3 linked regions of the Homo sapiens genome follow. The protein of the gene in region 1 purifies or fractionates together with the protein of each later gene. This does not show direct contact. Each region holds a gene or a part of one and is shown on either strand. Other genes may lie near its edges. The genes, in order: ZNF514, CMBL and SRSF10.

Region 1 (4,180 bases):
TGTAAACAACACAAATTTGTTGTTCACAGTTCTGGATGCTGGGAAATGCAATATCAACGTGCCAGCCAGTTCAGGGGCTGGTGAGGGTACGTTTCTCATAGATGGCACCTTCTGTGTCCTCACATGGCAGGAGGAGCAAAGGGGGCTTAAGGCCCGTTTTTATTTTTATTTATTTATTTAATTTATTTTTTGAGACGGAGTCTTGCTCTGTCGCCCAGGCTGGAGTGCAGTGGCACGATCTTGGCTCACAACCTCTGCCTCCCGGGTTCAAGCAATTCTCCTGTCTCAGCCTCCTGAGTAGCTAGGATTACAGGCGTGCACCACCACGCCCAGCTAATTTTTAAATATATTTTTGGTAGAGACAGGGTTTCACCATGTTGGCCAGGCTGGTCTCAAACTTCTGACCTCAAGTGATCCGCCCGCCTTGGCCTCCCAAAGTGCTGGGATTACAGATGTGAGCCACCACGACCGGTCTAAGGGCTGTTTTTAAAGGGCACTAATCTCATTCATGAGGGCAGAGTCTTCCAAAGGCTCCACTTCTTAATACTATCACCTTGGGAGTTAGGTTTCAACATATGAATTTGAGGGGGACACATACATTCAGACCATAGCAGGCCGTTTTTCCATTTCTTTTGGGTCCTAAATGATATTTGTTTCTGGAGTAGGAGGGCGTTCAAAGTCCTCTTTTGTTCTTCAGCACCCTTCGCTGAATTCAGGGGCAGATGGAGAAAGGCAAGAGGCACGGGGCAGCCTGTAGAAGCAGTATCTAGCACTGAGTCCCCAGTATCCCCTAGGCACGCCAGGAGAGCCTCCTGGAAATCCTCACTCAGCAGATCCAGGGTAGGAACGCGGCTTCTGTTGAATAGCCTTACATCGAGATATGCAGGTTGGGGGCGGTGGCTCACACCTGTAATCACAGCACTTTGGGAGGCTGAGGCGGGAGGATCATCTGAGGTCAGAATTCGAGACCAGCGTGGCTAACATAGTGAAACCCCGTCTCCACTAAAAATACAACAAATTAGCTGGGCGTGGTGGCGGGAACCTGTAATCCCAGCTCCTACGGAGGCTGAGACACGAGAATTACTTGTACCCAGAAGACAGGTTGCGGTGAGCCGAGAGCGCGCCCCTGCACTCCCACCTGGGCGACAGAGTGAGGCTGTCTCCCCCCTCCCCCCAAAAAACGAGAGAGATATGAGGCTCAGCTACCAAAGTCACGCGCGAGAAGGGAAATGCTTGTAGGTCCCTGCCCTTGGGGGAGAGCGGAGTGAAAACCGGCGCGTGGCCGGCGAGCACGGCCCCTCCCAGCGGAGGTCCTACAGGCGCCCGCGAGCCCCGCCTCTCCAGCTTCGCCGCGCCAGCACCCCGCCACCGGCGCTGGCTCTGAAGGGCCCCGGCGGCGGCCGCGTCTGCGCAAGCTCGGGACGGCCTCGGGAGGCGGGGCTGGCGCGGGGCGGACGCGGGGGCTGGCGCGGGGCGGACGCGGGGGCTGGCGCGGGGCGGACGCGGGGGCTGGCGCGGGGTGGCGGGCGGGGGCTGGCGCGGGGTGGCGGGCGGGGGCTGGCGCGGGGTGGCGGGCGGGGGCTGGCGCGGGGTGGCGGGCGGGGCCTGGTCCTGTGAGCGTTCGGAGACTGCGGGCGCGCAGACCTGTACTGGGCCCGCGCCCCGGCCCCTTACAGAGCTGGGTGTGTCCCTCCGAGTGCCCCCCGCTAGGGACTGTGCAGGCCGGAGCTAGGCAGGGACAGCGGGGCGAACCGGGCTGATAGAGTCGGTCCCTGCTCCTGTGAGGCTCTCACCGAATCCCTGCTGTTTCCGGGCAGCTGAAGAGCGCTGGGCCCTCGCGTCGCGGGCGTGGCTGTGGCCGTGTCTCCTGGTAGTCTGAGCCCACTGTGCGTGTGGATCCACGTGGGAGCTGGGTTCCAGAGCCTGGTCCTGAGGAGGAGCCGAGCCGGGGGTAGGAGGCCGGACTTGGCGAGGGAAGAGCACGACCCCGGGCAGCAGTGCGCCGCGCTGGGCGCACCGGGGTTTGCCGGCCCTGCTCTGGGCCCTGCAGGTCCGCTGGCCCCGCCGCGCCTAGTGGGGATGCCCCGTGTCCCCCAGGCAGCCCCAGCCTGCGTCCCGCTCCCTGAACCCTCGGGAGGACCACAGGGCTGTGGCCGAAAGACAGAGATTTGGACCTAGTGAAAGGACGCCGCTCCTTAGCCCCAGCTATGGACTCCACAGCATCAGGTTTGGCTCTGGAGCGTGCAGAGGGCCAGGAGCCCTCTTGGGGAGCTAGTACCGAGCCCGATATCAGGAGGACCCCAGGAAGAGGCCGGGGAATCCCACTGAAGGGTGAGGCTGTACTTCATCTGCCTTCCGTGTGGCGACATCTAACCTTCCAGACCCAGAAGGCTGAAGCCGCAGTCTCCTGGGTCTGGCAGGGGTCTCTAGATGACCGTGGCGGAGGTGGAGGGGATGGCCATGGAAAATTGTCCCAATGGCCAGAGGAGAGCAGAAGAGGATCTGATCTCTTCCTGCTGCGGCAGGGAGAGGGCAAGCAAACCCAAGAGGGAGTGGCCCTTGGCCAGGGATCAGAGGACGATAGGGCCATTTGGAGCCTTGTCATCCACCTCCTTAATCACCTCACTAATAAGGTTCTTCCAGTCGTTCTAGCTCAGCGGTGTATAAGGTCAGCAGTGTACATGGTGGGTATCTCCTCTGAGCCCCTTCCCCCAATAGCGTTGGGGGCAGGGCAATCCAGGTGACCCAGGAGGTTTTAAGCCAGTCCTAAGTTTAGAACGTCCTATCTCTAACCAGGTGGGCATTTTAATCCGACTGTTCATCCTTCAGTGCACATGCTCAAGGACACATAACTGGCCAGTGGAAGAACTGGGCCCAGTCCGTGGGCTTCCCACCCCCTCTTTTTTCCTTTATACCCTTGTTAATCAGTGTGGCTCTGGGAACAGCAGAGGCATTGCCCAGAAGTTCTCTAGAATTGCAGACTCTGGGGCCCCACACATCCTCAAACAGTGTCTTAGCAAGTCTTGAGCCAGAGTTTAACAAGATCCTCAGGGATCCACACACACATGAAGCTTGAGGAATGCCTAACTGTGCTATGCTTACACCCATGTTGTTAGCCTTAACTACTTCTCTGGCATGGTTTGGGTTAGTTTTTTTGTTTGTTTTAAGGCTTTTATGAACAGTATGATGCAAAGCTTTATAATGAAGGAGCTCTCAAGTGTGTTGCAGAGACCTAACAGAGCTTGGGAACACCAGGGGCAGCTTCTCAGAAAGAGGTGGCCTCTGAGCTGGGTTCCCAAGGATGAGGGGAGAGGTGTAACTTCCTCCCCTTAAAGCCTCATAATCCTGCATGGCCTTGCCTTGGGTCTTGTGTAATTGTTAACCTGTAGGCTAGATTTAAAGTTCCTTGAAGTTCTTTTCCATATTTATATTTCCAAAAGTCCTAGGAGATGACCTGCATACAGTATGCCCAGTAAATAACTTCAGTGGTATGGCCAGACTGGTCACACTTCACTCACTTGTAGACTGATGTGGGCTGTGGACAGGTGGGAGCCTCATGCAGCTGTGTACAGGGGCACTTCTCTCAATGTTTGAAGGCTAGAAGCTGCCTCTCAGATCCTTTTGATCCACTGGTGTCCTCAGAACAACGGAGGTGACATTCAGAGCTGTTCTGGGTCTCAGGCTTGGGAAGTCTGAGAGCTGTGTGTGCTGGCTGGGTCAGCTTCCCTTATGTCTCCTTCTACCTTCCCAGCTTCCCCTTCTCAGAATCCTGCTCTTCCTCCAGAGAGATTCCCAGGAGAAGAGGGAACAACCAATTCATTCCTGAAAGCCAGGCCTCGGGTGAGTTGTATTCTTAATTTTTCCTCAAATGCCTGAACGATGGTTAGCTTTGCCTACTTTTCACCAAAAAGTAGCCTCTTTTTTCACTAAGGGAACTGACCCAATGCTGTCTCTGCAGGAGGCTGAGCCCATCCAAGTGAATGATGGCTCCCTGACCTGTCCGGGGTGTTCTCTTCTTGCTGTGCACCCACTCAGATCGTTTGGGCTTACTCTGACATATTTCTAGAAAGGGCACTGTGGTGACCACCAGGTAATGTGACAGCCCTGGCCTTGAAAGAGTGTCACAGCCACAGTGGAAGAGGACCCTGACACCCAGGACGCAGCCACCAGTAACAGGATG
Region 2 (3,553 bases), on another chromosome or scaffold:
TTTTTGTTTTTTTTTTTTTTGAGATGGTCTTGCTCTGTGGCCCAGGCTGGAGTAAAATGGCACCATCTCAGCTCACTGCAACCTCCACCTCCGGGTTTAAGTGATTCTCCTGCCTCAGCTTCCCAAGTAGCTGGGATTACAGGTGCCCACCACCATGCCTAGCTAATTTTTGAATTTTTAGTGGAGATGGGGTTTCACCATGTTGGCCAGGCTGATCTTGAACTTCTGACCTCAAATGATCAGTCCACCTCAGACTCCCAAAGTGCTGGGATTACAGGCATGAGCCACTGTGCCTGGCCAAATCAAGTACTTCTGATGAAAAGTTAGCATCCAAATGGAGATATGTGTAAGCAGAAAATACACACCAGATGTCAAAGATAGAGGAACAAAAAAAAAAAAATACAAAATATCTCACTCATGATTCGTTACATTGATTACACACTGATGGAACATTTGTGATAAATTGGGCTAAAATGCATTATTAAAATTAATTTCACTTGTGTCTCTTTCCTTTTTTTAATGGGGCTATAAGAAAATTTAAAATTACATACATGGGGAAAAAAGCTAAAGTTGCCATTTTTTCCCTTTACCTTCATTTATCTGTTTGTCTAATAGTCACTGAAGAACATATCTTTTTAAAGAAGTACGTGTGTGACTTACATTATACTTCTATCTGCAGTGCTGGTTCAGAACACCATGACATTTGACCAAAGGACTCAGCAGAGGGAAGGCTGCCCAGGCCCCAAGCTCACCATGAAGGATACAGCCACACCCTTGGTTCATTCTCGCACGAATTTCAGACCTCCCACCTATGTTGAAGACTCTGGCTACTGGCCACATGCTCACCGACACCGTTCCACGGCAAAAGCCCAGCACATCTCAGGGGTTTCCTGGGAGGCCGGATGAATGTGTGAGGCCTCCTGGGAGCAGCCCTCAGCAGGCAAGGGCTTTGGCCTGTTGGGGTCCACAACTAAGTGTCCACAGTAGACCAGCCCTGCTCAGGCTTGGATTCTCTCAACATTAGGCAAAGGGTCTCCCCATACCCATTTGACAGATGCAAAAACTGAGGCTCAGGAAGCTCAAGTTTGGGAATTCTTTGAATTTTATGTTTCCTGAGCATCTATTTGAATGTAAGTTGGACTTTCTCATACTAGAAGCAGGGATTAGTAACACAGTTTCCAGTTATACAACTTCTCACTGTTCCCCAAGGTGGTCGATCCAGACATCTGCCTTACAAAACCGCCTCCTGGGACCACCTTCCCATGGACAGCTGGATACCACCTGCTTGACTTGTCCCACTGACCCCCACACCCACATGGACCATGCCGATATCCTACCCACACCGACCCCTCTCAGTCACAGCGTGAGTCCCCGGGGCTCATGCCTGCTTGCTCTAAACCCCCCAGTTAGAACCTCCAGGGGAAACCTGCATAGATGACACCCTGGGCCCCAGTGAAGGCTTTGGCTCATAGCTCCCTCTCTCTCTCGTTCTCCACCTTCTGGTTGAGCCCATGTGTCCTGAATGGCTCCCCCTTTTTGCTGGCCCTGTGAAGCGTGCTGCCCTCTGTTCTCTGGATCTGTAAGCAATAAACTGCTTCTGTCATTTCTTGGGTTCTGATGAGTTGCCTCCTCTACCCCATCCTAACTTCTTTCCCGGTCAGGGCTCTCCGGGAGAGTGGCTGTCTCAGTAGGAATAAACTGGACACAGGTCAGATGAGAGCCACAAGGTCATGTGCCAGGATAAACAAGCTTCCTGCGAGAGGGACACCTGGCCACAGGTTGGACACTCAGGAATCAGGCCGTCTGTGAGGTCAAAGAAGGATCCCATGAAAGGCACATGGGAAACACCCACGACCACATCCCCAGGATCCCCGTCAGGGCAGGGCTAGAGTTTACAGCCACTCTCTCCTGAGAAGGACGTCAAGACAAAATTAGGAAAAAAACTACAACATCAAGTCACTTGCCCAAAGTCACATGTACGCACCCCGTAGGTGCAGGTGCAGAGTTTCTCACCGGCTCTCCCCTTTACGCCACCACCAGAAACACAGGAGATATTTCTGAGGTAGCCTCAGGCCCTGGGACCCAAAAATGCCAGTGCTTGGAAATCCACTGCTTAGGAGACAACAGCTGGGTGACAACTCTAGCCCACCGTTCTCTGCTATCTTTTTAAAAAAGCTGCAAATTCAAAAATTCAAAAAATTAGTTTATTAGCTTAATATAATTAGGTCAATGGAATCCTGTTTTGATCTCAATACTTCCCATATTGCAATATATAAATGTGACAAATTCAGCTGTTTTGTGGCATAGATAAGTGTCTAAGCTGGGCAGTTAGTCTACCCGTTTATAGTTCATGTTCTTCATGGCTTTGCAGCATTTGTCACTTTCTATGATGTGTTCAAAGACCAGAAAAGGCCACACTTGACCTGTCAGCTGGTCCTTGAACAGCTGTAGGTTTTTTTTTTTTTTTGAGACAGAGTCTCCCTCTGTTGTCCAGGCTGGAGTGCAGTAGCGCAACCTCGACTCACTGCAACCTCTGCCTCCAGGTTCAAGTGATTCTCCTCCTCAGACTCCTGAGTAGCTGGGATTACAGGCACATGCCACCATGCCCGGCTGATTTTTATATTTTTAGTAGAGATGGGGTTTCACCATGTTGGCCAGGCTGGTCTTGAACTCCTGACCTCAAGTGATCCACCCACCTCGGCCTCCCAAAGTGCTGGGATTACAGGCGTGAGCCACCGCACCCGGCCTGTAGGTTTTAACTAATAATTAGGGTATTACTCTATCATTCTCTATCATTCAAATTCTCCAGGTACTGACCTGGTTTTTATTTTATTTATTTATTTATTTACTTATTTATTTTTGAGACAGGGTCTCACTCTGCTGCCCAGGCTAGAGTACAGTAGTGGCACAATCTTGGCTCACTGCAGTCTCCACCTCCTGGGTTCTATTGATTCTTGTGCCTCAGCCTCCCAAGTAGCTGGGACTACAGGCGTGCACCACCACACCAGGCTAATTTTTGTATTTTTTGTAGAGATGGGGTCTCACCATGTTGGCCAGGCTGGTCTCAAACTCCTGACCTCAGGTGATCCACCCACTTTGGCCTCCCAAAGTGCTGGAATTACAGGCATGAGGCACTACACCTGGTCAGACCTTGTTTTTAAATTATGATTCGATGTACATGTCAAAAATTAAATTATTTCATGCATTACGTCCTACTGAATTTGTGTTTCAAATGAAATAATCAATTTTAGGATTCCTACACTTATTTTATAAAAGTGAAAATTAAATCAAATGATCTAACTATTTCCAAGCAAATTTTGGGATGAAAGCTATTCTAGGAAGGCTTGCCCTTGATTCTTGCTACATGTACTTGTTCAGCCACTCAATTAAATTCCTTCTGGCCTCGTCAATGTAGGGCTTGTCTGCAGGTGAGCAATCTTCTCTCTTCCGATGCACGAACCCATGAGTCTGCCCAGAAAATGTTTTAATTTGATATTCAACTTTGCAGTGTTCTTTCAACTTCTGAGTCAGCAAAGATACCTGGTGTGCAAAA
Region 3 (3,389 bases), on another chromosome or scaffold:
GTAAGGGCTCAATAAATATTTGCTGAATATACTGACTAGGAAAGAGGTGAGAAGAGATGGGCCCTCTTAGCTGGATGTCAAATATAATTGGAATTTACCTGGGAAGGAGTAGTTAAGACAGATGTAAACTGCATGTGGTGTACAAGTAAATAAACACAGATGCCAACAAAGCAAATGATTAAGCAGAAAACACTGGCACCAAAATAAACAAAGGCAAGATTTGCCAATAATGGCAAAAATGGAACTTTTATATTGGACCATACCTTTTCCCACCCAATTCAGTTTGAGACAGACCAACAGAGGCACTGTAAGAGACTATGGCTGTCTTCCTTGATATTCAGACATCCTAGTTTCCAATAATTTATTATGGACCTGTTACCCATGAATCAATATAAACCTATTCATATTTAGGGATTAGTTTCCACAAGTACAAAGTTGAATTTCCTTTTATTTGTCCTAAAATGCTTACTTTCAAACTTGAAGGGACTTCAATTATTCCATGTAGTTTTCGATAACATTCTTTTATCTTTTCAGACCAGAGTCAAAATATTCGTACAGTATTCATACTGCAGCACCTTCCACCCACCCTTTGGTCGCTTGAACTGCCCTTCTTTGGTTCTTTTTCCGCTTTCAGATCTTTCTTGAAGTGTAGTAAGCAGAACTGTACTGGGTATTCCAGCTGCAGTTTGGTCTTAAATAAAAGAAGGATGTTTGTCAGTTTGGTTTCCTTTATTCTTCTCTGTGGTATACAGGATTTTGTTAGTTGAACTGGATGTAGCAGCTTACTGGGCCAAATTTTCAAGAGAATAATACAATAGTTCCCAGGTCTTTCCCCTGGGATGTAACTTAACAGCTCATACTCTATGTAGCACCTTTCCTCTCTCACTGAAGCATTATCTCTCATTTTTCTTCTTGCTTACTTGGCTTCAAAAAAAAAAAAAAAATGCAGAGAGATCTTAAGTAAAAGGAGAGGTGAAGTGTGTCAGCCCTCATTTGAGTGTTGATATAACCATTCTATTTATCATTGAGCCCAGTCATACACAGTAGGTAAACTCAGTAAGTGGGGGACTCAACTACATCACCCAAAACTAACATAAAACACTACGTAAAGATCCTCATCAAGTATCAGTAGGATCCAAACTACCATGGGTTCAACTGTAATATAGTCCTTTTGAAGCTGTTAGGTGTGTCGCTTTAGGAACAACATATAAGATTCTCAATAGTCCAAGTCTAAAAATAAGTTGACACAAGTAAAAATAAAAATGAAATTAGGCCTTCTAGTTCTATACAGAAAATGAACAATTTCAATGAGCTATCTCCTCAATCTACTTCTCTCAAATTATAGTCTGTAAAACAAACAAAACCCCCCCAAAACTAAGGGACCAGGCCTGGGCTTAAATCCTGGCTCTGCCTTACAGTCTTTTCTTTGTGCCTCAGTTTCCTTATCTGTGATATGGGGAAAATAAAAGTATCTTTCTCATAAGGTTTTGTGAAGAGTGAGTTAACACATAGCCTTTTCAAGTGTCTGGCACATCATGAATACTTAATAAATTAGCTATAATTGTCATAAAGTAGATAGAATTCAAACCACAAAATACCTAACCTACTTCCCCAAAGAGGTTATCACTTAATATTAGTTGCTCATCAACATTCAATTTAAAATGATTTAAAATCATGTCATAAACGTTAAGCCCTAATGCGTCTTGTTTATAAGAGGGAGAGCAGAATTACTGATCCATCCAATAATGAAAATATAAACTTGGAATTAGCTGATCCAAATTTCATCTTAACACTACCAAATAACCTCTTAAGTTAGTTAACCCAAGAGGCTTAATGAGCAATCATGAAACAACTTTGATATTACACAATGAATTTTTAACTACTGTGTAAAAGATGTACCTTTCTGGCAAGTTCTATCATTTCCAAAGTAAAAGTTAGTTGTGCCTAGTGCAACAATGATTTAAAATATTCCTAAATCTATAAAGGACTGTTTCCATTGTTATTTTAGAATCATATTCAATACTGTAATAATTCCAGTTAATCATTATTTCCTTCATTTTGTTTTTATTATAGCATGTTTGCTTAATTTACAGCAAGCAGAAAATAAGCTGGGTCTTGTTTTGATCCAAACATTGATGTTTTAAAGGTTGTACACAATATTTGTTAAAAAGAACATATAAAAATACCTTTTTAGAAGCCTCTATAAGAAAGAAAATACAAAGTTTAACCCCACAACTTTCCTCTTTGCTAGAACTGTAAACTACTGCTACAGTTTTAAATAGACTTTTTGTTGTTTAAACTATACATCCAGGAAAATCTAAAAAAATTAAAGAAACGTGCATATAAACGATTGCATAGCAGAACATGAACATTAACTGCAAACAGTAAAGAAATGAAAGTTAGAAATACTATCAAATATACAAAGGTTCTAGAATCAATCCTTTAAACACATTCCACAAACAGTATTTAAAATCCATCGTTGTATTCTTTACAGGCAAAGCCTAGATTACTAAAACCGAAATTGAAAAAAGTAATCCTCTAAAAGGAATCGTTTGTCCATAATTCGTACTTGTATCTGTAAGCAAGCAATCTGAGATTTTTAAAGATGCTAGCTTTTTATTCTGAAATGAAATTGGACATGTCAAGTCACTTTTGTCCCCAAAACGATCTTTCAGAGAAATACTAGAAATTATAAATGGTTTAAGGGTATTACTTCATTTTTAGTCAGGTACTACACTGATAATCGAAAGCTCAAAAGATGTGACTCTTGCTTAAAACTGACTAATCCTTTTCCCCAAATTACCTTAAATTTCATGGCACCACAGAATCACCTAGAATGAGTGTTGTCTTACAACTTGCCTCGTATTAAATAAACTGAGGTGTGAAAAGCAGGCCTCCCTCATAAAGAGGCAGGCAAATTTTGATACAAATGCACGAGCCAAGTGCTGTAAGCATCAAAATTTCAGTTCTTTTACACTAGGCACACACACACAAAACCTACTTTGAAACAATTTACTTACTTAACAGCAGTAAGAAAACTAAGCAATATTATGGTCAACAACGCTCCTTAAACTTTAGAATAACTACATAAGAATATTCCTTTTTCCTTAAAATTATTTTTGCCATCAACGACCTGCTCAAATTTTAAGGTGAGTTTTTGTGTTTTCTATGTTCCAAATCTTCATAGGAACCAGAAAAAAAGCAGTGAAGGCTCCATGTTTCAGTCAAAAACTCAATTTCCCAGCTGGCATCATTCCCCAAGACAGTGGGGTTAACAAAAGAACTAATCCACACTGCATCAAAAATAATTATCATTGGCCTAGACATCCGGTTTTTTTTTTTTTTTGAGACGGAGTCTCACTCTGTTGCCCAGGCTGGAGTGCAGTGGC

The links.
Region 2: the proteins of ZNF514 (region 1) and CMBL purify together in Homo sapiens (affinity purification with mass spectrometry; one large-scale study listed by BioGRID and IntAct). This does not show direct contact.
Region 3: the proteins of ZNF514 (region 1) and SRSF10 purify together in Homo sapiens (affinity purification with mass spectrometry; one large-scale study listed by BioGRID and IntAct). This does not show direct contact.

What each region holds. Positions count from the first base shown.
Region 1 is NC_000002.12:95,157,011-95,161,190, reverse strand, and holds the start of ZNF514 (zinc finger protein 514), read left to right. Parts: upstream 1-1,342; 5' UTR 1,343-1,951; exon of another isoform or gene 1,952-2,207; coding exon of another isoform or gene 2,208-2,331; intron 2,332-3,751; coding exon of another isoform or gene 3,752-3,840; intron 3,841-3,846; exon of another isoform or gene 3,847-4,180. UniProt on the Homo sapiens protein: May be involved in transcriptional regulation.
Region 2 is NC_000005.10:10,277,093-10,280,645, forward strand, and holds the end of CMBL (carboxymethylenebutenolidase homolog), read right to left. Parts: intron 3,541-3,553; coding exon 3,361-3,540; 3' UTR 503-3,360; downstream 1-502. UniProt on the Homo sapiens protein: Cysteine hydrolase. Can convert the prodrug olmesartan medoxomil into its pharmacologically active metabolite olmerstatan, an angiotensin receptor blocker, in liver and intestine. May also activate beta-lactam antibiotics faropenem medoxomil and lenampicillin.
Region 3 is NC_000001.11:23,967,033-23,970,421, forward strand, and holds part of SRSF10 (serine/arginine-rich splicing factor 10), read right to left. Parts: 3' UTR 925-3,389; coding exon of another isoform or gene 894-924; 3' UTR 692-893; coding exon of another isoform or gene 631-691; 3' UTR 1-630. UniProt on the Homo sapiens protein: Splicing factor that in its dephosphorylated form acts as a general repressor of pre-mRNA splicing. Seems to interfere with the U1 snRNP 5'-splice recognition of SNRNP70. Required for splicing repression in M-phase cells and after heat shock.